Homo sapiens: one gene and its partners. The protein of the gene in region 1 purifies or fractionates together with the protein of each later gene. This does not show direct contact. Each region holds a gene or a part of one and is shown in the gene's direction. Other genes may lie near its edges.

The links.
Region 2: the proteins of COX15 (region 1) and ATP2A1 purify together in Homo sapiens (affinity purification with mass spectrometry, with the first as the bait; one large-scale study listed by BioGRID). This does not show direct contact.
Region 3: the proteins of COX15 (region 1) and ETFA purify together in Homo sapiens (affinity purification with mass spectrometry, with the first as the bait; one large-scale study listed by BioGRID). This does not show direct contact.
Region 4: the proteins of COX15 (region 1) and LMNB1 purify together in Homo sapiens (affinity purification with mass spectrometry, with the first as the bait; one large-scale study listed by BioGRID). This does not show direct contact.
Region 5: the proteins of COX15 (region 1) and SLC25A24 fractionate together in Homo sapiens (co-fractionation; one large-scale study listed by IntAct). This does not show direct contact.
Region 6: the proteins of COX15 (region 1) and CLCC1 purify together in Homo sapiens (affinity purification with mass spectrometry, with the first as the bait; one large-scale study listed by BioGRID). This does not show direct contact.
Region 7: the proteins of COX15 (region 1) and RALY purify together in Homo sapiens (affinity purification with mass spectrometry, with the first as the bait; one large-scale study listed by BioGRID). This does not show direct contact.

What each region holds. Positions count from the first base shown.
Region 1 is NC_000010.11:99,722,128-99,725,627, reverse strand, and holds part of COX15 (heme A synthase COX15), read left to right. Parts: intron 1-1,504; coding exon 1,505-1,672; intron 1,673-3,500. UniProt on the Homo sapiens protein: Catalyzes the second reaction in the biosynthesis of heme A, a prosthetic group of mitochondrial cytochrome c oxidase (CcO). Heme A is synthesized from heme B by two sequential enzymatic reactions catalyzed by heme O synthase (HOS) and heme A synthase (HAS).
Region 2 is NC_000016.10:28,895,488-28,898,987, forward strand, and holds part of ATP2A1 (sarcoplasmic/endoplasmic reticulum calcium ATPase 1), read left to right. Parts: intron 1-2,512; coding exon 2,513-2,638; intron 2,639-2,745; coding exon 2,746-2,964; intron 2,965-3,500. UniProt on the Homo sapiens protein: Key regulator of striated muscle performance by acting as the major Ca(2+) ATPase responsible for the reuptake of cytosolic Ca(2+) into the sarcoplasmic reticulum.
Region 3 is NC_000015.10:76,301,470-76,304,969, reverse strand, and holds part of ETFA (electron transfer flavoprotein subunit alpha, mitochondrial), read left to right. Parts: intron 1-3,500. UniProt on the Homo sapiens protein: Heterodimeric electron transfer flavoprotein that accepts electrons from several mitochondrial dehydrogenases, including acyl-CoA dehydrogenases, glutaryl-CoA and sarcosine dehydrogenase.
Region 4 is NC_000005.10:126,832,636-126,836,135, forward strand, and holds part of LMNB1 (lamin-B1), read left to right. Parts: intron 1-58; coding exon 59-166; intron 167-3,500. UniProt on the Homo sapiens protein: Lamins are intermediate filament proteins that assemble into a filamentous meshwork, and which constitute the major components of the nuclear lamina, a fibrous layer on the nucleoplasmic side of the inner nuclear membrane.
Region 5 is NC_000001.11:108,144,844-108,148,343, reverse strand, and holds part of SLC25A24 (mitochondrial adenyl nucleotide antiporter SLC25A24), read left to right. Parts: coding exon 1-65; intron 66-3,500. UniProt on the Homo sapiens protein: Electroneutral antiporter that mediates the transport of adenyl nucleotides through the inner mitochondrial membrane. Originally identified as an ATP-magnesium/inorganic phosphate antiporter, it also acts as a broad specificity adenyl nucleotide antiporter.
Region 6 is NC_000001.11:108,956,985-108,960,484, reverse strand, and holds part of CLCC1 (chloride channel CLIC-like protein 1 isoform 1 precursor), read left to right. Parts: intron 1-3,500. UniProt on the Homo sapiens protein: Anion-selective channel with Ca(2+)-dependent and voltage-independent gating. Permeable to small monovalent anions with selectivity for bromide > chloride > nitrate > fluoride.
Region 7 is NC_000020.11:34,070,411-34,073,910, forward strand, and holds part of RALY (RNA-binding protein Raly), read left to right. Parts: intron 1-1,655; 5' UTR 1,656-1,664; coding exon 1,665-1,920; intron 1,921-3,152; coding exon 3,153-3,225; intron 3,226-3,408; coding exon 3,409-3,456; intron 3,457-3,500. UniProt on the Homo sapiens protein: RNA-binding protein that acts as a transcriptional cofactor for cholesterol biosynthetic genes in the liver. Binds the lipid-responsive non-coding RNA LeXis and is required for LeXis-mediated effect on cholesterogenesis.

The sequences.
Region 1 (3,500 bases):
AGAGGTTGCACCACTGCACTCCAGCCTGGGCAACAGAGCAAGACTCTGGCTCAAAAAAAATAAATAAAGAAAGAAGGGATTAAGGAGGGAGATGAGAGAGAAGAAATAGAGGCAGCAGAAACAATAATCAAAGTCTAATAGTAACCAGAGAAAGGCATGTAGAACAAAATGAAAGTTAACATTTTAGAATTAGAAAAACAAGCCAACACTGAAAACACTATTAGGGAGGCAGAAATTAAAGATGTCAGATAAGGTATGGGAGAAGAAAGTGGGCTAGTGAATCAACTGTGTACGTCTTCATCTTTCAATGTCTCTTGCAGATGAAATCAAGGTAATTAGAATATCCAGGGTAATCTTGAAAGGGGAGAGAAATGCCCAAAAAGATTTCCTGAAGAGTATATATTTAGAAGTGGCAGAGTCCACCTCTTTGACCTGATTCTACTGGCAAGTGGGAGTGAAAGGGCTGTCTTATTTCATATGATTGGAACTAACAATTGTTTGGTTAATTGAAAAAGCCAGTTAAAGCAGAGAATCATAGAATATGATACATAACATAAACTTTTAAACTTAAATCTGTACGTTCATTACCAACTTTTACAAAATCAAGGCCTTTTCTTTGACTATGCGTCCCCAGATTGGCATTCAACTGCAGGTTTCTTATATCCCCATAAACTGTGGTTTTGCTTAAAGCGGAGTGGGAACTTAGATATTTGCAAAGCGATCTGCATGCAAAACCTTATTGATTTTTATGATTTTCCCCTGAAACTTTTATAATTGTCTTATTCCAACCTAACTTGACAGTAGATGTTTTTAAGCATTTACCTTTATTAAGTTTCTCCAAAACATTCAATCTAGTTTTATGAGATATATCCATGGACCTTTTTTTTTTTTTAAAGCTCATCAGCTACTGTTAGTGTTAGTGTATTTTATGCATGGCCCAAGACAATTCTTCCAGTGTGGCCCAGGGAAGCCAAAAGATCAGACACTTCTGATCTAAATAGTAGTTAAGTATTAATGGTGATATGTGAAGAACTGTGGATAAATCATGAATCTTGGGACACTGCGTATTGGGGAGGGTATGGAAAGAGGAGGGGTGGGGTAGAGAGTACTCCTGATAGCTCATTTCCTCAGTAAAGTTGAACAGATCAGGCCGGGTGTGGTGGCTTACGCCTGTAATACCAGCACTTTGGTAGGCTGAGGTGGGCGGATCACGAGGTCAAGAGATTGACACCATCTGGCCAACATGGTGAAACCCCATCTCTACTAAAAATACAAAAATTAGCCAGGCGTGGTGATGCGCAACTGTAGTCCCAGCCACTTGGGAGGCTGAGGCAGGAGAATCACTTGAACCTGGGAGGCGGAGATTGCAGTGAGCCAAGATCCCGCCACTGCACTCCAGCCTGGTGACAGAGTGAGACTCTGTCTCAAAAAAACAACAAAAAAAAGAAAGTTGAACAGATCATTTTAACCTTGTTTTGTTTGCTTCATCTCTTGGGGGTTCTAGGGTCTGTTGGGATGGTATATGGTGAAAAGTGGACTAGAAGAAAAATCAGACTCCCATGACATCCCTCGGGTCAGTCAGTACCGCCTTGCTGCCCACCTGGGATCAGCCCTGGTTCTTTATTGTGCCAGCTTGTGGACCTCACTGTCACTGCTACTCCCTCCGCACAAGGTAAGAGTTGTGTGCAAATATCTGTGTTCAAGACCCCGCTTTTGGTTCTTTTGGATATATATCTAGAAGTAGAATTGCTGGATCATATAGGAGTTGAATATTTTGCCAACATTTTCTATTGGCAAAGGTGAAACAAATTGAAAAATAGAGTGGGAGGGAGTACCAACAACAAGAAATATCCCAGTCGCTTTACCTCTGACTCCTAGAAGGGATGGTGGATGGCAAAGTGAGAAAGATCAGAACAGAGGTGTTTCTGAACTTCTGGTGTGGACAAGAGCTATATTGTTCGTTAAATGGGGACCTGCCAGTTAAGTCTAATAGTAAACCTTAGTGATTTTGTCTGAAGTATTTTTCTGTCTGCTGATTAAAGCAAAGTACTAGTTTTTCATTTTATGCTTTGATTTAAAAGCAAGGTATAACATTTTTTTGAGGCCTTCATTAATAATAGAGGTTCCAAGACACCACACCCTTATAGGACATTTTTTTCCCTAGAATTTTTTTTTAAATGAGTCTTGGCCAGGCGCGGTGGCTCACGCCTGTAATCCCAGCACTTTGGGAGGCAGAGGCAGGCAGATCACCTGAGGTTGGGAGTTTGAGACCAGCCTGACCAACCTGGAGAAACCCCATCTCTACTAAAAATATAAAATTAGCCAGCCATGGTGGCACATGCCTGTAATCCCAGCTACTCGAGAGGCTGAGGCAGGAGAATTGCTTGAATCCGGGAGGCAGAGGTTGCAGTGAGCTGAGATGGCACCATTGCAGTCTAGCCTGGGCAACAAGAGCGAAATTCCATCTCCAAAAAAAAAAAAAGAGTCTTATATTAGGTATTGAAATCATGGGTTGACCTGAGTAAGCTGTTCCTGGAGAAAAGTTTGAGATGACAGCAGGACTCTTAAGTCGAATCATCCATTAGGTACTTGGAGCTAGTAGCTAGATCCCAGTAAGGACTGGACGTGTTGTCTTGGCAGTCATTCCCACAGAGAAGCCAAATTGGGTTGAAATATTGATACAGTAGACAACCACTGAATAATTCCACATCTGAAAAATAAGGAATTATTTGAAAGTCTCCTGACTTTCAAAGCCAAACTTCATTTATTTACTTATGTATTTATTTATTTATTTGAGATGGAGTCTTGCTCTGTTGCCCAGGCTGGAGTGCAGTGGTGTGACCTTGGCTCACTGCAACCTCCACCTCCCGGGTTCAAGCAATTCTTCAGCCTCAGCCTCCCGAGTAGCTGGGACTACAGGCGCACACCACCATGCTCGGCTAATTTTCTGTATTTTTAGTAGAGACAGGGTTTCACCATGTTGGCCAGGCTGCTCTTAAACTCCTGACCTCAGGTGATCCACCCGCCTCGGCCTCCCAAAGTTCTGGGATTACAGGTGTGAGCCACCGTGCCCATCAAAGCCAAACTTCTAAAATGAATTCATTTTAATTCAGACTTCTAAAATGAATTCATCTTAATGAATTCATTTTGCCTGCATCTATAGCTGCTGCTTCCTGACAATCTATTCCTTCTTTTCAGTCCCTGTAATTATCTTCCTCACCCAACCCAATACATACACACTCACACATTTACCCACACTTACACATAAACCCACACACTCTTGCTACTGAAATTGTACTCTTAAAGGTTACTGATGACTTTATCAATTGTTTTTCTCTGTTAGTTTAGATTCACCTAATTACAAAAAGGATTTGAGATGCTACCCAATGAGCCATATAGTGCTATGCTGTCCAACACAGTAGCTACTAGCTACATATGGCTATTTAAATTTTAACTAATTAAGGCTGGGCACGGTGGCTCACACCTGTAATCCCAGCACT
Region 2 (3,500 bases), on another chromosome or scaffold:
TTTTTTTGTATATGCAAAATGCTCATTGCTACTTTATTTAATATAACAAAAAAGCGGGCCAGACACAGAGACTCACGCCTATAGTCCCAGCATTCTGGGAGGCTGAGGTGGGAGGATCACTTGAGCCCAGGAGTTTAAGACCGGCCTGGGCAACATAGTGAGACCCGCATCTCTACAAAAAAAAACGAAAACAAAAACAAAGAAAGAAAGAAAAAAAAAAGAAAAAAATTAGTTGGGTGTGGTGGTGCAAAACTGTACTCTAGCTACTAGGAAGGCTAAGGTGTGAGGACTGCTGGAGCCCAGGAGGTCAAGGCTGCAGCAAGCAGTGATTGCACCACTGCACTCCAGCCTGGGCAACAGAGGGAGACCCTGTCTCCAAAATAAACAAACTGAAAGCAACTTAAATACCTGTCAATAGAGGACTAATTTTTAAAATTTATAAATGATAATGCAAACATAAATTTTTATTTATTTATTTTTGAGATGGGGTCTTGGCCTGTCGCCCAGGCTGGAGTGCAATGGCTATTCATAGGTGTGATCACAGCGCACTGCAGCCTTGAACTCCTGGGCTCAAACCATCCTCCTGCCTCAGCCTTCCAAGTAGATGAAGCTACAGGCATGCACCACTTTTCCTGGCTACTGATGTTTTGTTCTTTTTATTTTTGTTTTATTTTTTGGAGAAGTATCCATGATACATTTGGTGAAAAAGGCTTTCATTCTTTTTGTTTGTTTGTTTGTTTGTTTGTTTGTCTGTCTGTTTTGAGAGTCTTGCGGTGTCACACATTCTGGAGTACAGTGGCATGATCTCAGCTCACCACAACCTCCGCCTCCTGGGTTCAAGCAATTCTCCTGCCTCAGCCTCCCTAGTAGCTGGGATTACAGATGCAAGCCACAATGCCCAGCTAACTTTCTGTATTTTTAGTAGAGACGAGTTTTTTTTTTTGAGACGGAGTCTCTCTGCTTTGCCCAGGCTGAAGTGCAGTGGGGCCATCTCGGCTCACTGCAACCTCCGCCTCCTGGGTTCAAGCAATTCTCTTGCCTCGGCCTCCTGAATAGCTGAGATTACAGGCATGTGCCACAACGCCCAACTAATTTTTGTATTTTTAGTAGAGATGGGGTTTCCCCATGTTGGTCAGGCTGGTCTTGAACTCTTGACCTCGTGATCTGCCTGCCTCGGCCTCCCAAAGTGCTGGGATTACAGGCGTGAGCCACTGCGCCTGGCCTTCATTTTTTTTTTTTTTTTTTTTGAGACAGAGTTTTGCTCTTGTTGCCCAGGCTGGAGTGCAATGGTGTGATCCTGGGTTCAAGTGATTGTCCTGCCTCAGCCTCCCGAGTAGCTAGAATTACAGGCACGTGCCACCACGCCTGGCTGATTTTGTATTTTTAGTAGAGACGGGGTTTCTCCATGTTGGTTAAGCTGGTCTACTACTAAAAAATACAAAAATTAGCTGGACATGGTGGCGTGTGCCTGTAATCCCAGCTACTTGGGGGGCTGAGGCAGGAGAATGGCTTGAACCTGGGAGGCAGAGGTGGTAGTGAGCCAAGACTGCACCACTGCCCTCCAGCCTAAGCAACAGAGCAAGACTCCATCTCAATATAAATAAATAAAAATTAATTCAAATTAAATAATATACAGAGTACCTCCAATGCTCCACAGCAATTGCTCAGTTGCACCAATTGTACAGTGCAGATCACATAACATTTCTATCATTACTAAAAGTTATAGGGCCAGGTGTGGTGGTTCATGCCTGTAATCCCAATGCTTTAGGAGGCCAAGGCAAGAGGATTGCTTGAGGCCACGAGTGAGACCAGGCTGGACAACACAGGGAGACTCTATCTCTAAAACATTTTTTTAAAATTAGCCTGGAGTGGTGGCATACACCTGTGGTCCCAGCTACTCAGCTGGCTGGGAGGCTGAGGCAGGAGGATTGCCAGAGCCAAGGCTACAGTGGGCTATGATCACGTCATTGTACTTCAGCCTAGGAGACAGCGCAAGACTCTGTCTCTAAAGAAAAAAATAAGTAAATAAAAATAAATAAACAAACAATGAAAGTTTTTTTTTCTTTTTTCTGAGACGGAGTCTCGCTTTGTCGCCCAGGCTGGAGTACAATGGTGCGATCTTGGCTCACTGCAATCTCTGCCCAGCTAATTTTTGTATTTTTAGTAGAGACAGGGTTTCACCATGTTGGCCAGGCTGGTCTCGAACTCCTGACCTCAAGTGATTCACCCGCCTCAGCCTCCTGAAGTGCTGGGATTACAGGCATGAGCCACCGCGCCTGGCCAATAATGAAAGTTCTGTGGGACAGTGCCACAATAGGCCATCCTTTTCTTCTGTGCTTTAACCTAGGACCCTGAAGCACTGTGGCAACACTAGCCTTGGGATTTTCTCCTTTTGTGCTATAGGGACCAGACTTAGTGTTAGTCTCAGCCTTAGCTTGGGGTCTGCTCTGACCTCCAGATTCTTTTTGACCATTTTAAGAGGACTGGTCTCCCCTCCCTGTCTCCTCTCCAGGTGATCCGCCAGCTAATGAAGAAGGAATTCACCCTGGAGTTCTCCCGAGACAGAAAGTCCATGTCTGTCTATTGCTCCCCAGCCAAATCTTCCCGGGCTGCTGTGGGCAACAAGATGTTTGTCAAGGTCAGAAATCGGAATGTGCCTCAGCCCCCTCTTCTTCCTACTCCTAGCCACCTGTCACTGCCCTGGAAGGAAAGTGGTGGTCTCTGAATGCTGTTCTGGTCTCCTAGGGTGCCCCTGAGGGCGTCATCGACCGCTGTAACTATGTGCGAGTTGGCACCACCCGGGTGCCACTGACGGGGCCGGTGAAGGAAAAGATCATGGCGGTGATCAAGGAGTGGGGCACTGGCCGGGACACCCTGCGCTGCTTGGCCCTGGCCACCCGGGACACCCCCCCGAAGCGAGAGGAAATGGTCCTGGATGACTCTGCCAGGTTCCTGGAGTATGAGGTAAGCAGCTGGGAGCCTCCCACTGTCGTGGAGCTGGTGAAGGGCCGGGTCCCAGCCATCCACTCACAGCTCCACCACCCGGATCATTTCCTACCTCGTCAGTCAAGTTGATGGCTCCTTAGTACAGGCCATGGAATCACAGGACAGTAGAGTTTCAGAGAACCTTGGGAGGCCGGGTGCAGTGACTCACACCTGTAATCTCAGCACTTTGGGAAGCTGAGATGGGAAAAGCGCTTGAGCCCAGGAGTTCAAGACCAGCCTGGGCAATGAAGTGAGAACCCCATCTCTATTAAAAAAAAAATTTTTTTAATTACCTGGTTAAATTCATAGGGGTCTGGGTAAAAAGTAAAATACATTTTTAAAAATGTTAAAAGAAAAGAGATGAACTGGACATGGTGACACACACCTGTAGACCCAGCTACTGGGGAGCCTGAGGTGGGAGGATCACTTGAACCTAGGAGTTGGAGGCTGCAGTGAGCCATGATCCCACCACTGCACTCCAGCCTGCATGACAAGCAAGGCCCTGTCTCTAAAAA
Region 3 (3,500 bases), on another chromosome or scaffold:
CTGGGTTCACGCCATTCATCTGCCTCAGCCTCCCAAGTAGCTGGGACTACAGGTGCCCGCCACCACGCCCGGCTAATTTTTGTATTTTTAGTAGAGACGGGGTTTCACCATGTTAGCCAGGATGGTCTCGCTCTCCTGACCTTGTGATCTGCCCGCCTCGGCCTCCCAAAGTGCTGGGATTACAGGTGTGAGCCACCGCTCCTGGCCGAGGATTTTCTTTAGATAAAAACATCACTTCATTTTTTAGTTTTGTCTAAAATCATTTATCATTGCTGTATTTTTTCCCCCAATTTTTTTTTTTTTTTTTTGAAATAGAGTCTTACTCTCACCCAGGCTGGAGTGCAGTGGTGTGATCTTGACTCGCTGCAGCCTCAACCTTCTAGGCTTAAATGATCCTTCCATCTCAGCCTTCCAAGTAGCTGGGGCTACGGGAATGCGCCACCACATCTGACTAATTTTTTAATTTTTATCTTTCATAGAAACAGGGTCTTACTGTATTGTCCAGGCTGGTCTTAAACTCCTGGGCCAATTTTAGGTTTGCAGGGTATCTGTGCAGATTTATTATGAGTAAACCGTGTGTCCTGGGGGTTTGATGTACAGATTATTTTGCCGCCCAGGTAATGAACATAGCATCCAATAGGTAATTTTTTGATTCTCACCCTGCTCCCACCCTCCACCCTCAAATAGGCCCAGGTATCTATTGTTCCCTTCTTTGTATCCATAGGTATTTGATGTTTGGCTGCCACTTACAAGAGAGAACATTCCATGTTTGGTTTTTCTGTTCCTGCATTAATTCACTTAGGATAATGGCCTCCAGCACTGTCCATGTTGCTCTAAAGGACATGATCTCATTCTTTTTAATGGCTGTGTAGTATTCCATGGTGTATATATACCACATTTTCTTTACCCAGTCCATCCCTTGCATGGGCATCTAGGTTGATTCCATGTCTTTGCTACTGTGAATAGTGCTGCCATGAACATGCACATGCATGTATCTTTATGGTAGAATGGTTCATATTCCTTTGGGTATATTCCCAATTATGGTATTGCTGGGTCGAATGTTCTAAGTTCTTTGAGAAATCGCCACATTGCTTTCCGCAGTGGCTGAACTAATTTACATCCTCACCAGCAGTATATAAGCGTTCCTTTTCTCTGCAACCTTGCCAGCATCTGTTGTTTTTTGAGTTTTAAATAATAGCCATTCTGACTGGTGTGAGATGTCTCATTGTGGTTTTTATTTGCATTTCTCTAATGATTAGTTAATGTTGAGCATTTTTTTATATGCTTGTTGGCCACATATGAGAAGTGTCTGTTGATGTCCATTGCCCATTTTTTAATAGGGTTGTTTTTTGCTTGTTGATTTAAGTTCCTTATAGATTCTGGTTATTAGACGTTTGTCAGATGCATAGTTTGCAGATTTTTTTTTACCATTCTGTAGGTTGTCTGTTTACTTTGTTGATAGTTTATTTTGCTGTGCAGAAGCTCTTTAGTTTAATTAGGTCTCACTTGTAAGTTTTTATTTTTGTTGCAATTTCTTTTGGAGTGTTCGTCATGAAATCTTTGCCAGGGTCTATGTTCAAAATGCCATTTCCTATGTTTTCTTCTTGGGTTTTTATAGTTCGAGGTCTTACATTTAAATCATTTTTTGTTTGTTTGTTTTTTGAGATGGAGACTTGCTTTGTCACCCAGGCTGGAGTGCAAGGGTGCAATCTTGGCTCACTGCAACCTCCGCCTCCTGGGTTCAAGCAATTCTCCTGCCGCAGCCTTCGGAAGAGCTGGGATTACAGACTCCTGCCACCACGCCCAGCTAATTTTTGTATTTTTAGTAGAGACAACAGGGTTTCACCATGTTGGCCAGGCTGGTCTCGAACTCCTGACCTTAGGTGATCCACTCGCCTCGGCCTCTCAAAGTGCTGGGATTGCAGGTGTGAGCCACTGCACCTGGCAGAAGTTTTTTTGTTTTGTGTTGTTTTGTTTTTAAGTAGAGTTTGGCCTGTGTGGTAGTACACATCTGTAGTCCTAGCTACTCAGGAGGCTGAGGCAGGAGGATCCCTTGGGCCCAGGAATTGGACGCCAGCCTGGGCAACATAGAAAGACACTGTCTCTAAAAATAAAATTTTTTGAAAATAGACTTTATGTTTTAGAGCAGTTTTAGGTTCACAGCAAAATCCAATGGAAAGTACAGAGAGTCTTCCTGGTCCACACACCCACAACCTCCTCCACTGTCAACATACAGCACCAGAGTTGTCCATTTGTTACAATTAATGAATTTACATTGACATCAGCATTTCCCAGAGTCCATAGTTTACATTAGGATTCACTCTTTGTGTTGTACCTTCTATGGGTTTGGACAAATGGATAATGACAGGTATCTACCATTATTATATCATACAGAATAGTTTCACTGCCCCCGCCCCCACTCCCCCTGGAAAAAACAAAACAACAACAACAAAAAACCTCTATGCTTTGTTCTCCTAATCCCTGGCAGTCACTGATCTTTTTACTGTTTCTATAGTTTTGCGTTTAACAGAGTGTCATATAGTTGGGATTAGACAGCATGTAGCCTTTTCAGACTGTTTTTTTTTTCACTAAGTAATATGCATTCAAGGTTCCTCCATGTCATTCTCATTTCTTGTTACTGCTGAATAAGATTCCATTGTATGAATATTTATTCACTTACTGAAGGACATTTTGGTTGCTTCCAAGTTTTGGCAGTTATGAATAAACCTGCTGTAGACGTCTGGTTTTTGTGTGGACCTAAGTTTTCAACTCATTTGGGTACGTACAAAGGAGTGCAGTTGCTAGATTGTATGGTAAGATTATGTTTAGTTTTATAAGCAACTGCCAAACTGTCTTCCAAAGTGGCTGCACCAGTTTGCATTTTTACCAGCAATGAATGAGAGTTTCTGTTGTTCCACATCCTTACTAGCATTTGGTATTGTCAGTGTTTTGGTTTTTTACCATTCTAATAAGTGTGTAGTGGTATCTCGTTTTAATTTGCAATTTCCTAGTGAGCATCTTGATGTTGAGCATCTTTTCATATGCTTCTTGGCCATCTTCTTTGGTGAGGTACCTGTTCAGATCCTTTCCCCCTATTTAAATCAGATTGTTCATTTTTTATGTTGACTTTTAAGGGTTCTTTATTTTTTTTAGATAAGTCTTTTATCAGATATGTCTTTTGCACATATTTTGTCCCAGTCTATGGCTTGTGTTCTCATTCCTTTGATGAAGAGGTGTTTGTTTTGTTTTGTTTTGTTTTGTTTTGAGATGGAGTCTCTCTCGCCTAGGCTGGAGTGCAGTGGTGTGATCTCGGCTCACTGAAACATCCACCTCCAGGGTTCAAGTGATTCTTGTGCCTTAGCCTCCTGAGTAGCTGGGACTATGGCGTGTGCCACCATGCCCAGCTAATTTTCGTATTTTTAGGAGAAATGGGGTTTCACTCTACTGACCAGGCTGGTCTCGAACTCCTGACTTCAGGTGATCCATCGGCCTCGGCCTCC
Region 4 (3,500 bases), on another chromosome or scaffold:
TCCCCCGCATTTGGTGATTTTAAGTGTGTTTTTTAACTTAAACTACTATTGTTTTTAGGAGGTTGCTCAAAGAAGTACAGTCTTTAAAACAACCATACCTGAAGAAGAGGAGGAGGAGGAAGAAGCAGCTGGAGTGGTTGTTGAGGAAGAACTTTTCCACCAGCAGGTATTACTTTATTTATTTAATATATTTATTTCAAATTTTATTCACAGAATTACATGAAGACCAAGAGTGTGGTTGGGTTTTTCCCCTATCAGTTGATGAACCAGCGCAGTTATCTACCAAGTGGGGTTTGTACTCCCCAAAGGGATATTCAAGGTGATACTTTAGGGTACTGGAAGAATATGTTGGCACTTTTATTTTTATTTTTTCTCATTGTACCAAGTTTCAGTTTTGTCCTTTGTTTTCTAATGTGCATTATGTGTTACAGTAAAACATGTCTATGGATTGGATGTTTACTCCAAACTTGTTTACTCTGTAGGGTCCTATGATTAAAAGGTTTAGATCACTAATTTAGAGCAAGAATCTGCATATAAACTTTAAAAAAACAAAGTAATATTCAACTTCAGTGTGAAACAAAATTCTTGCTGTATTAAGTTCCTAATCATTATCTAATTGAAGATAGATTTTGGCTGATGGTTGGGCTTTTGAGAGCCCTTGAAATAAAGAAACTCCAAATTTGGTTTTAATTATAATTAAATTGGAATTATTAATAACTAATGAGCCTTCAGTTTATATTCTCAAGCTGTTTGAGTCCGATCATTAATCAAAGTGTCTACCCTTATCCTGATAAGACTTTGTTTCCATGGCTCCAGATTTTTAGTCTTAAGTCTGCTTTGCTTCATTAGCCCTAGTCCTGGTCTAAATAAACACTGTCTCATATATTTAACCCCCAGGGTTGAGAACCACTTGAGGTGGGTTGCATGAAGTAGCATGAATTTTTTACCTGGATGCCTTCTCATACATTTTGGAGGAATATTTTAAAACACATATGTTACACTTAACTTACAAGAAACAAGCACAAGTTCCATTTTCTGTGCTTCAATGGGAACCATCGTAATTACTAGAAGTAAAATAATTATGTAAGAGATAACTCAAGGCACCAGACAAGAGGGTCAGCATGAGTTATATAGCATGTCAGATGCTAGAGGAGGTACTCCAGGCCAGCAGAGTAGTTGAGAAGAACTCTGTGAGGTGATGCTTGTCCACTAATTTGAAGGATGGGTGATTATTTGGTTATTGGAGAGAAGGCAGATGATGGTGCTCTGAGGATGTTGGAATTCACCATTGCTTCACTAACAGACCACCCCAAAGCTTAGTGGCTTAAAACAGTGATTTCTTACTTCCCATAATTCTGTGGTTTGACTGGGCTCAGCTGGGCAGTGTTTCTGTTCCACATGCTGCAGACTGAACTCAATCGAGCAGGCTGTGTTCAGCTCAGAGGTTGGCCTCGGCTGGAATATCTTTTAGGTCTCTTTCTGTGTGGATTTCTATGATTTAAGAGTTTAGTCAAAGCTTTATAGCATGGCAATTGTCTAACAGAGTAAGTGGAGGGTACAGGTTTCTTTCTTTTTTCTTTTTTTTTTTTGAGATAGAGTCTTGCTGTGTCGCCAGGCTGGAGCGCAGTGGCGCAATCTCAGCTCACCGCAACCTCCACCTCCCAGGTTCAAGAGATACCCCTGCCTCAGTCTCCCAAGTAGCTGGGATTACAGGCATGCGCCACCACGCCTGGCTAATTTTTTATATTGTAGTAGAGATGGAGTTTCACCATGTTGGCCACGACAATCTCAATCTCAAGAGAGTACCAGGTTTCTTAAAGGGCCCTTTGTAACATTCTCTTAGTCAAAGTCATGAGGCCAGTCCAGATTCAAAGTGGGGGTAAATAGTCTCCACCTGTTGGTGGGAGGAATGGCAAAGAATTCATGGTGATCTTTAACTCACTACAGAGGATGTGTAAAGAATGTGGCCGGGCACGGTGGCTTACGCCTGTAATCCCAGCAGTTTGGGAGGCAGGCAGATCACAAGGTCAGGAGATCGAGACCATCCTGGCTAACACGGTGAAACCCCGTCTCTACTAAAAATACAAAAAATTAGCCGGGCGTGGTGGCGGGAGCCTGTAGTCCCAGCTACTCGGGAGGCTGAGGCAGGAGAATGGCGTGAACCCGGGAGGCGGAGCTTGCAGTGAGCTGAGATGGCGCCACTGCACTCCAGCTTGGGTGACAGAGTGAGACTCTGCCTCATAAAAAAAGACTTAATGCACCAACTATATCCGCTCATCCAGTTATTTTGTAGGGTTCATGTGAGAGTTAAATGAAGTTGAAAGATTGGAATTAAACTGACATAGTCTGGAATGCTTAGGGATGTAGCTTCTGTACAATTTGGAACAAAGGAGAAGTTAAGACTGCATTTTAAAATATCACTGGCCAAGCTGAATCAGAGGGACTAACTCTAGAGAGGAGATTCCAGAGGCAGTGAGGGAATATATAATGGAAATTTATTAAGGCTTAGTGACTAAACTTGAGGGTGAGAGAAGAAAAAAAATAAAGATGTATGAGGTTTTTAGCTTTTGTGATCACAGAAACTAATGATACCAAGGTTCATAAGAGGGAAGATGGAAGGGCAGAACAGGCGTTTGAACTTCATATTTGAGGATGAATCCAATCGCCTTTTGAATTGATTAGAAATATTTTGGTGACCTTCAAAAAACCAGTTTTAGTTCAATCAGTGGTGAGTCACAAGTCATATTGTGAGGTTATATGAAATTAATGAGTGATAAAGAAATGGGTAGAGGAGCCATGTTGACTTCACCTTGGAGGACAAATCCACTGCAGATGGCTTGGGATGTGTAAGTTCAGGATCTAGCAAGCTGTAGTCTCCGATGTGGTTGTTAAAAGCTGATCCACTGATCTCCTATTTCCTAAGTTATCAAAAGAGGTTATTGAACAATGGTTTTCAAATTGAGCTGCACATTAGAATTACTTTAAAATTATATATAGATAGCTACCCTTTCCCAGTAAAATGAGAAATTCTTATTTGATTGATCAAGGGACCTAGATCAGAATTTGTTTTAAACTCCTCAGGATCTGAATGTGTAGCCAGAGTTGACAATTACTGTTCTGGAATTTGTTGGGGGGTATTCTAGAAAGAAGTCCATAAAAGAAGGTTAGAGGCCAGATACGGTGGCTCACGCCTGTAATCCCAGCACTTTGGGAGGCCAAGGGCAGGTGGATCACTTGAGGCCAGGAGTTCAAGACCAGCCTGGCTAACGTGGTGGTGATGCACACCTGTAGTCGCAGCTGCTCGGGAGGCTGAGGCATGAGAATCGCTTGAACCCAGGAGGTAGAGGTTGCAGTGAGCCAAGATTGCACCACTGCACTCCAGCCTGGGCAACAGAGTGAGACTCTATCTCAAACAAACAAAGAAAAAGAAAAAAAGAAAAGGTTAGAAAAGATGAGAGATGATAAAGGGTCCATTTGAGGTTAGGTAATATGGTTTGGTA
Region 5 (3,500 bases), on another chromosome or scaffold:
TTGAGAGATTTATTTCTGGTTCCATGGCTGGAGCAACTGCACAGACTTTTATATATCCAATGGAGGTGAGTACCATTGTCAAGTCTGACTGTGTGATGGTGTTCGTGTTGGTTGTCTATTGCTCTCTAACAAGTTATCCCAAAATTAACAGTTTAAAACAAGCATTTATCATCGCACAGTTTCTCTGGGTCAGGAATCTGGAAGCAGCTTAGCTGGGTGCCTCTGGCTCAGGGTTTTTCACAGCCCACAGTCAAGATGGTAGTCAGAGCTTGGAATCAGCTGGAGGCGGATTCCAAGCTCACTCATGTTGCTGCCAGGCCTCACTGGCTATTGGCTGGAAACATCAGTTCCTTATCACGTGAGCCTTTCTGTAGGCTGCCTGAGTATCCTCAAAACACAGTAGCTGGCTTCCCTAGAGTCAGTGGTCCAACAGAGAGAGAGAGAGAGAGTGCCTAAGATGAAAGCTGGTATCTTTTGCCTCTTCTGCTGTATTCCATTGATCACACAGACCAACCCTGGTAGAGTGTAGGAGGGGCTGGTATAATGGTGTTAATAACCGGAGACAAATATCACTGGGGGTCACTTTAGAGGCTGGCTGCCACTTTAGAGGCTGGCTGCCATTCCTGTCCAAAGAGTTTCTGTACCATAAATTTAATAATGGAATCTCAGGATTTGATTATATGGTGATTATCCTAATTAGACATCCTTTCATTAGTGCATAGGTTGGCAAAACACAGACCTACGGACTGTTTCATACAGCCCTTGACCTAAGAATGCCTTTTACATTTTTAAAAAGTGGGCAACACAGGAAAAAGTGAGAAAGATCTAAAATCGACACCCTAAGATCACAATTAAAAGAACTAGAGAAGCAAGAGCAAACAAATTCAAAAGATAGCGGAAGACAAGAAGTAGCTAAGGTCAGAGCAGAACTGAAGGAGATAGAGACACGAAAAACCCTTCCAAAAATCATTGAATCCAGGAGCTGTTTTTATGAAAAGTTTAACAAAATAGACAACTAGCCAGAATAATAAAGAAGAAAACAGAGGAGAATCAAATAGACACAATAAAAAATGATAAAGGGGATATCACCACCAATCCCACAGAAATGCAAACTACCATCAGGGAATACTATAAACACCTCTATGCAAATAAACTAGAAAATCTAGAAGAAATGGATAAATTCCTGGACACATACACGCTCCCAAGACTAAATCAGGAAGAAGCTGAATCCCTGTATAGACCAATAACATGTTCTGAAATTGAGGCAGTAATTAATAGCCTACCAACCAAAAAAAACCCAGGACCAGACAGATTCATAGCCGAATTCTACCAGAGGTACAAAGAGGAGCTGATGCCATTCCTTCTGAAATTATTCAAACAATAGAAAAAGAGAGATTCCTCCCTAACTCATTTTATGAGGGCAGCATCATTCTGATACTAAAACCTGGCAGAGACACAACCAAAATAGAAAATTTCAGGCCAATATCCCTGATGAACATCAATGTGAAAATCCTCAATAAAATACTGGCAAACTGAATGCAGCAGGACATCCAAAAGTTTATCCACCATGATCAAGTTGGCTTCATCCCTGGGATGCAAGGCTGTTCAACATATGCAAATCAATATAACGGAATTCATCAATAAACAGAACCAGTGACAAAAACCGCATGATTATCTCAATAGATGCAGAAAAGGCCTTCGATAAAATTCAACACCACTTCATGTTAAAAACTCTCACTAAACTAGTTATTGATGGAATGTATAACAAAATAATAAGAGCTGTTTATGACAAACCCACAGCCAATATCATACTGAATGGGCAAAAGCTGGAAGCATTCCCTTTGAAAACCGGCACAAGACAAGGATGTCCTCTGTCAGCACTCCTATTCAACGTAGTATTGGAAGTTCTGGCCAAGGCAATCAGGCAGGAGAAAGAAATAAAGCGTATTCAGATAGGAAAAGAGGAAGTCAAATTGTCTCTGTTTGCAGTTGACATGATTGTATATTTAGAAAACCTCCTTGTCTCAGCCCCAAATCTCCTTAAGCTGATAAGCAACTTAAAGCAAAGTCTCAGGGTACAAAATCAATGTGCAAAAATCACTAGCATTCCTATTAACCAATAATACACAAACAGAGAGCCAAATCACGAGTGAACTCCCATCCACAATTGCTACAAAGAGAATAAAATACCTCGGAATACAACTTACAAGGGATGTGAAGGACCTGTTCAAGGAGAACTACAAACCACTCCTCAAGGAAATAAGAGAGGACACAAACAAATGGAAAAACATTTCATGCTCATGGATAGGAAGAATCAATATCATATCATAGGAAGAATCAGTGGCCATACTGCCCAAAGTAATTTATAGATTCAATGATATCCCCATCAAGCTAACATTGAATTTCTTCACAGAAATAGAAAAAACTACCTTAAATTTCATATGAAACTAAAAAAGAGCCTGTATAGCCAAGACAATCCTAAGCAAAATGAACGAAGCTGGAGGCATCACGCTACCTGACTTCAAACATACTACAAGGCTACAGTAACCAAAACAGCATGGTACTGGTACCAAACAGATATATAGACCAATGGAACAGAACAGAGGCCTCAGAAATAACACCACACGTCTACAACCATCTGATCTTTGACAAAAACAAGCAATGGGGAAAGGATTCCTTATTTAATGTATGGTGTTGGGAAAACTGGCTAGCCATATGCAGAAAACTGAAACTGGACCCCTTCCTTACACCTTATAAAAAAAAAATTAACTCAAGATAGATTAAAGTCTTAAACATAGACTTAAACTATAAAATCCCTAGAAAAAAACCGAGGCAATACCATTCAGGACACAGGCATGGACAAAGACTTCATGACTGAATCACAAAAGCAATGGCAACAAAAGCCAAAATTGACAAATGGGATCTAATTAAACTAAAGATCTTCTGCACAGCAAAAGAAACTATCATCAGAGTGAACCGGCAACCTACAGAATGGGAGAAAAATTTTGCAATCTATCCATCTGACAAAGGGCTAATATCCAGAATCTATAAGGAACTTAAGCAAATTTACAAGAAAAAAAAACCCACCAAAAAGTGGGTGACGGATATGAACAGACACTTCTCATAAGAAGACATTTATGCAGCCAACAAACGTGAGAAAAGGCTCATCATCCCTGGTTGTTAGAGAAATGCAAATCAAAACCACAATGGCATACCATCTCACGCCAGTTAGTTAAAAAGTCAGGAAACAACAGATGCTGGCAAATATGTGGAGAAATAGGAATGCTTTTACACTGTTGGTGGGAGTGTAAATTAGTTCAAGCATTGTGGAAGACAGTGTGGCAATTCCTCAAGGATCTAGAACCAGAAATACCGTTTGACCCAGCAATCCCATTACTGGTTATATACTCAAAGGATTATAGATTTTTCTACTATAAAGACACATGCACACGTATATTTATTGCAGCACTGTTCACAATAGCAAAGACTTGGAACCAACC
Region 6 (3,500 bases), on another chromosome or scaffold:
TCTCACTGTCATTCTCTGAAAGGTCATAAATGGCCAACTAATTAACCAATCCAATGGCTTTTTTCCAGACTTTGTTCCTCTCCACTTCTCTGAAGTATTGAATACGCTTGATACCACTTTCTTGAAATTAAGTCCCTCCTTAGTTTTTGCCCATTGCATATTTTGGCTTGTCTTCTATTGCCCTGATTAGCCTTCACTCTCCTCTCTGGTATTTGCTTCTTCCATGGCTTTCTTCCTTAGTTGAACTCTTAATTTTTTCCAATAAAGTATACAGTTATTCAGTATTTCTAAGTATCTCCAGAGCATAACAGTGATTTTAGTGTTTTTTGTTTGTTTGTTTGTTTTTTAATTGAGTCAGGGTCTTGCTCTGTCACCCATGCTGGAGAGCAGTGGCGTGATCTCGGCTCAGTGCAGCTTCAACCTCCCCGGCTCAAGTGATCCTCCCACCTCAGCCTCTCCAAGTAGCTGGAAATATAGACGTATGCCACCACACCCAGCTAAATTTTGTTTCAAGTTTTGTAGAGATGGAATCTCCCTAAGTTGCCCAGGCTGGTGTCGAACTCCTGGGCTCAAGTGTTCCTCCTGCCTTGGCTTCCCAAAGTGCTGGGATTACAGGCGTGAGTCGCCACAACCGGCCAGAAACTATTGTTCTATTTATTTTGTGCAGAGCTTTGGTTGTTCAGGCAGGAGGGTAAATCTGGTCCCTGTTACTCCATCTTGGCCAGGAGTAGGAGTTGGGGAAGTGCTTTGGGAGTATAGAGTCCCCCCTTTACCCTTGGAGTATACATTCTAAGATCCTAGTAAATGCCTGAAACTTCAGATAGTACTGAACCTTGTATATATTCTATGTTATTTCCTATACATCTATTCCTCTGCTAAAGTTTAATTTATCAGTTAGGCACAGTAAGAGATTAACAGCAATAACTAATAAAATAGAAAAATTATAACAATACACAATAATAACAGTTATGTACTGTGGCTGGAATTTTTTCACTTGAGGTGCGACAGCAAAACTAGCATGAATTTCTTTCTCCTCCTGTACAATTTCATGGATACAAGTTTTGTTCTTAACATAGATCTTAGCAACCTCATCATATGAGCTTTTTTTTCTTTAATTTTTTTTTTTCTTTTGAGTTGGATTCTCACTTTGTCACCCAGGCTGGAGTACGGTGGTGTGCTCTCAGCTCTCTGCAACCTCTGTCTCCCAGGCTCAAGCGATTTTCCTGTCTCAGCCATTCAAGTAGCTGGCATTACAAGTGTGTGCCACCATACCTGGCTAATTTTCATATATTTATTTATTTATTTATTTTGAGACGGTGTTTCACTGTTGTTGCCCAAGCTGGAGTGCAATGGCGTGATCTCGGCTCACCTCAACCTCCGCCTCCCGGGTTCAAGTGATTCTCCTGCCTCAGCCTCCTGAGTAGCTGGGATTACAGGCATGTGCCACCACGCTCGGCTAATTTTGTATTTTTTTGTAGAGATGGGATTTCTCCATGTTGGTCAGGCTGATCTCAAACTCCCGATCTTGGGTGATCCGCCCACCTCGGCCTCCCAAAGTGCTGGGATTATAGGCATGAGCCACTGTGCCTGGCCTATTTATTTTTTGAGATGGAGTCTCGCTCTGTCGCCCTGGCTAGAGTGCAGTGGTGTAATCTTGGCTCACTACAACCTCCGCCTCCCGGGTTTAAGCAATTCTCCTGCCTCAGCCTCCTGAGTAGTCAGGACTACAGGTGCTTACAACCATGCCTGGCTAATTTTTTGTATTTTTAGTAGAGACGGGGTTTCGCCATGTTGGCCACGCTGGTCTTGAACTCCTGGGCTCAAGTGATCCGCCTGCTGGGCCTCCCAAAGTGCTGGGATTACAGGCATGAGCCACCACGCCCAGCCCTTTATTAAGTTGAGAACTTTCACTTTTTCACTTAAAGGAAGCACTTTATGGCTTCTCTTTGACATATCTGAATTGCCAGCATCGTTACTACTGTGCTTTAGGGCCATTATTAAGTAAAGTATAGATTCCTTGAACACACGCACTGAGATACCACAGCAGTCGTAACCCAGATGGATACTAAGTGACTGGAGTGTGACACCTACAGTGTGGACATCGTCCCATGTGGGATGGAACAGGACAGGAAGAGAGTTCCTCACACTATCCAGAGCTGTGCATAATTGAAAACTTAGGAACTGTTTACTTCTGGAATTTTCCATTTAATATTTTCAGACTGCAGTTGACTGTGGGTAACTGAAACCTCAGAAAGCAAAACCGTAGATGGGGTTACCACTGTAGAGTTACTGTGTTACCTTGATCCAAAACCTTTACCTGAATGATTCCTTTAACCATTCCCGGTAGGCTTTCTCTGTTAAAGCTGCTGTACCAAATCCAGGGGTCAGTTTGCTGCCCTCTGATCGCCTGACCTCTTAGCGGCATTCAACATATTTGTCTGCTCTCTCCTTTCTTCACTTGGCTTCTGAAATTCCAACCTCTCTTGGTTTTCTTCCTGCCTCATAGCACTCACTAGAATTATCTCTTGCTGGTTCCTCCTCTTCTTTCTGATCCCCGAATGTTGGCTTGCCCAGGACTCAGTCTTTTGTCCTCATAATAAATCTTCTGGTGATCTTACCCAGATCATCTCTTTTAAACCCCGTCTACATTCTGATCGTTCTCAAATGTAGTCCCACTGCTCTCCTTAGCTTCATCCTGCATATTTATAATCTCTACTTGGACATCAGTGGACACTTCAGATTTACTATATCCAAACAAAACTCTTGATCTTTCAGAACTTGCAGTCTTCTTCAGTCTTTTCCCTTCTCCCAGTTGCCCTGGCCACAAACATAGAAATCGTCCCAAATCTTCACTTGTCCTTACCGACATCCAAATTTTCAGCAATTTCTATAGTGTATTTCTGTATTAGAGTAGCAAGAGATGTTATAAGAAATAAACCCCTATATCTCAGTATATGCCATAAATGAAATTAATTTTTGCTCACATGAAAGTGAAAAGCTATATTCCCACTTAGTGGGTGGCCTTCCAGGTGGTCATTTAGGGGCCCAGGTGCCTGCATAGTTTGGCTGCCCTCCTCCAGGGCTCAGTGTCCTGGGAATTCCCTGGTTGGGAGAGGGCAGCTGGGAGGTTTTCATGGGCCAGACTTGGATGTGGTGCATATCCCTTCTATCCGTTGGGTTGGCTAGAACTTAACTATTACGTGGCCATACTTCACAGAGAGGCTGAGACATACAGTCATCATTTGTCCAGAAGGAAGAAGAAATATGCCTAGTGACCTATTAGCTGGTCATTTTGCCAGATGTAGTAGGGTCTACCTACAGATTTTAAAAGTCTGACCATTTGTCATCACCTTTGCTGCTGTCTTTAGCTCATGTCACCTTCATCTCTGAAGTGGATGACTACAGATCTTCCTAACCTCCTGATAATCTTCCATTCTAATCTCTACATAGTAGCCATAGTAATGTCTTTTAGAATGTAAACCAGATTCTATCACGCCCCT
Region 7 (3,500 bases), on another chromosome or scaffold:
AAATTTGTACAGCCCTTTGGGGTAAAAGACCTGGCCAGAATATAGAGAGCAAAGGGTAGGTGCAGTCTCATCTCTAAGCCAAACAGAACAAAATTTGAACGAGTTAGTATTAATATGGGTAACTAAAAAATAAATTTATTAAAAATAATTCTCAGGTGAATGTGCTGACTTTCTGTGGTATCTAAATTGGCTTTAGCTCTGGGAAGCAAAATGATAAAGTTGAAAGAAATAGACTTTAGTGACAGACTGACCTGTGTTCGAATGCTCATTACTAGTAAGTTAATGAACTTGTCAATCAGTTTCTGGTAAAATATGAGTAATCATGACATTAACTTGTGGGATCTTGGGATTATTCAGTATTGTATACCACCCTTAGCCACAGCGAGTGCCTGGTGAGGCTTTGTGTTAGTCCATTCTTGCACTGTTATAAAGAAATACCTGAGACTGGGTAATTTATAATGAAAAGTTTAATTGGTTCACAGTTCTGCAGGCCGTACAGGCTTCTGCTTCTTGGGAGGCCTCAGGAAATTTACAATCATAGTGGAAGGCGACGGGGAAGTAGACACGTCTTCATATGGCCAGGGCAGGAGGAAAAGAGACAGTGGGAGGTGCTACACACGTCTAAACACCAGATCTCACGAGCAGTCACTCACTATCATGAGAGCAGCACCAAGGGGGAAATGCATGATTTCAGTCACCATGATCCAGTCACCTCCCACCAGGCCCCACCTCCAGCACTGGGGATTACAATTAGACATGAGATTTGGGCGGGGACACAAATTCAAACCATTATCGGGCTTAGCTAGCATACCCTTTTCAAAATGGTTGGTAGCAATTCAGACAGGTCTGTGTCTGGATCAGACTAAGCAGTTTTCTTTTCTTTTCTTTTTTTTTTTTAGACAGAGTCTGGCTCTGTCGCCCAGGCTGGAGTGCAGTGGCTTACTGCAACCTCCACCTCCTGGGTTCAAGCAATTTTCCTGCCTCAGCCTCCCGAGTAGCTGGGATTACAGGTACCCGCCACCACGCCTGGCTAATTTTTTGTATTTTTAGTAGAGACGGGGTTTCGCCATGTTGGCCAGGCTGGTTTCGAACTCCTGACCTTAGGTGATGCACCCGTCTCGGCCTCCAAAGTGCTGGGATTACAGTTGTGAGCCACCATGCCCGGCCCCTGCAATTTTCATCATATGGTGGTGGTCTAGAGTAAACATCACTTGCAAATACCATGTGACCATGGTTCTACATTGAAGATCTTCAAATTTAGATCCTGAATGGGATAACATTTGAGATGAGCATTAAAGGAGTAGACTCAAAAGAATTAGAGTCAAGCAGATCAGGGGGTCAGATCCCAGCCCTGCCATTCACTAACATTGTGGTCTCTCTGAATGTGAGATTTCTCCCTTGTAAAATGTTGTGGTTCTGCATATCATGTGAGTAACAAATGAGGGAATGTATGTAAAGCACCTGGCATGAGGTCAGCAGCCAATATGTGGCAACTCTTGGTAATATGACAAGAAAACAAGATGCAGGAACAGGTAGGCTGGATGCTATAAGGGTTAAGGAAGGTAAGAGGCAATTCATTTATCCAGGATATGGGCCGTGGGCAGTCCTTGAGCCCAGCCCAGGGACCCAGCTTCACCGAGGCTCTTTTTCTTCAGGTGGGCACCATGTCCTTGAAGCTTCAGGCAAGCAATGTAACCAACAAGAATGACCCCAAGTCCATCAACTCTCGAGTCTTCATTGGAAACCTCAACACAGCTCTGGTGAAGAAATCAGATGTGGAGACCATCTTCTCTAAGTATGGCCGTGTGGCCGGCTGTTCTGTGCACAAGGGCTATGCCTTTGTTCAGTACTCCAATGAGCGCCATGCCCGGGCAGCTGTGCTGGGAGAGAATGGGCGGGTGCTGGCCGGGCAGACCCTGGGTAAGCCTCTCTTCACTATATTCTCCTAGTATTCTCTAGAATAGCTGCTATCACTATCCAGTTCTCAACCCCCTTCTCTCTTTCTCTCACCGCTACCACTGCTCTGAGATTTTATAAATTTATAAGCTATGTTTAAGTTTTAAATAGTTATAAAATTAATCCCTATAGGGAAGAATTTTAGAAGCCTCTGGAAAACACTTCTGACCTGTCTCTGCTTTCTCAGAGCTTCTTAGTGACAGGCTTTACAGTTCCAGTTAAAATGCAGATTCTCCAGAGAAAGAGAACAGAGTGGCCTAGAACAGCCTGTTACACCGGGTACAGATGACTTAGGTTAGAACCCTTTCTGAGAGCGAGCAGGAGGGCCTGAGAGCACAAGGACAGTGTGAATACGCTTGGTTTTGGTGTCATGTCCATGTGATATGACTATGCTAGTGGTCTCTCTTGAAGTATGTACAGTGTTCATGCATGTGCATTTACTCCTGTGTATATGTGTATGTTTGAAAAGGGGTATCTGTATGTGTTTTTTCCTGAACAAGAAGTATATGGATTGACTGAACATGTGGAGATATGTGGACACAACCCTTGTATGTATAGATGTAGTGTGTGTGTGTGTGTGTGTGTGTGTGTGTGAGAGAGAGAACATATTTGAATGTGTCAGCAGATATACATATATTCATTTACCAGGTATTTATTGAGACCTTTTCATGTAGTAAGGACTATTCTAGGCATGAAGGTGTTTGGTAGAACATCCATGTGAATGTGCATTGGCTCATTTGCATGTGGGTAGTTGTCTATACTGAGTGTACTTGAGAATACACGTTACCTGTGTGTGAGTTTCTTACCTGGATATGTGAATGTATGTGTGAGTGTGGCTCTGTGTATGCGTTCCCATGTACCTGATGTGTTACGCATTTACATGAGTGTATTTGAGAATGCATATAGGAATATTCGACGTGTGTGTGTGGTGGGGCGGGGGGGAGGACATGTTTATGAGCATGCCTGGATGGATCTGAAAGTGTATGGACATATAAACAGGCATATCCATGTGATACCTGGATATGAATCTAATGTTTGAAGATTAGATGTATGAAGACCTTTGTTGGCACCATCAGTGAGCAGAATCCATGTGTATACCGTGTAAGCACATGAATTGCTGTGCGTGTGCATGAGGTTGATGTGTGTGGGCACACTGTCATGTTAGCATTCCAACTCTGCCTTCTCCCTCCACACAGACATCAACATGGCTGGAGAGCCTAAGCCTGACAGACCCAAGGGGCTAAAGAGAGCAGCATCTGCCATATACAGGTGGGGCTGTCTGACTGTCTGTCTGTCTGGTGGGATGACTCTCTCTTTCCACAGAGGGAGTAAATGCTGGTGTGACAGTGTGCTGAATCTAGAACTTGGGGAGGTGTCTGGAGATGAGGGCCTGTGGAAAGTGGGCTGAGTGGCCGTCCCTAAGCTCCAGCCCTCTCCCCTTTGTTTCCCCAGTGGCTACATCTTTGACTATGATTACTACCGGGACGACTTCTACGACAGGTGAGCAGGGGAGGGGCGTGCCCAGGCATGAAACAGCCAAGCTG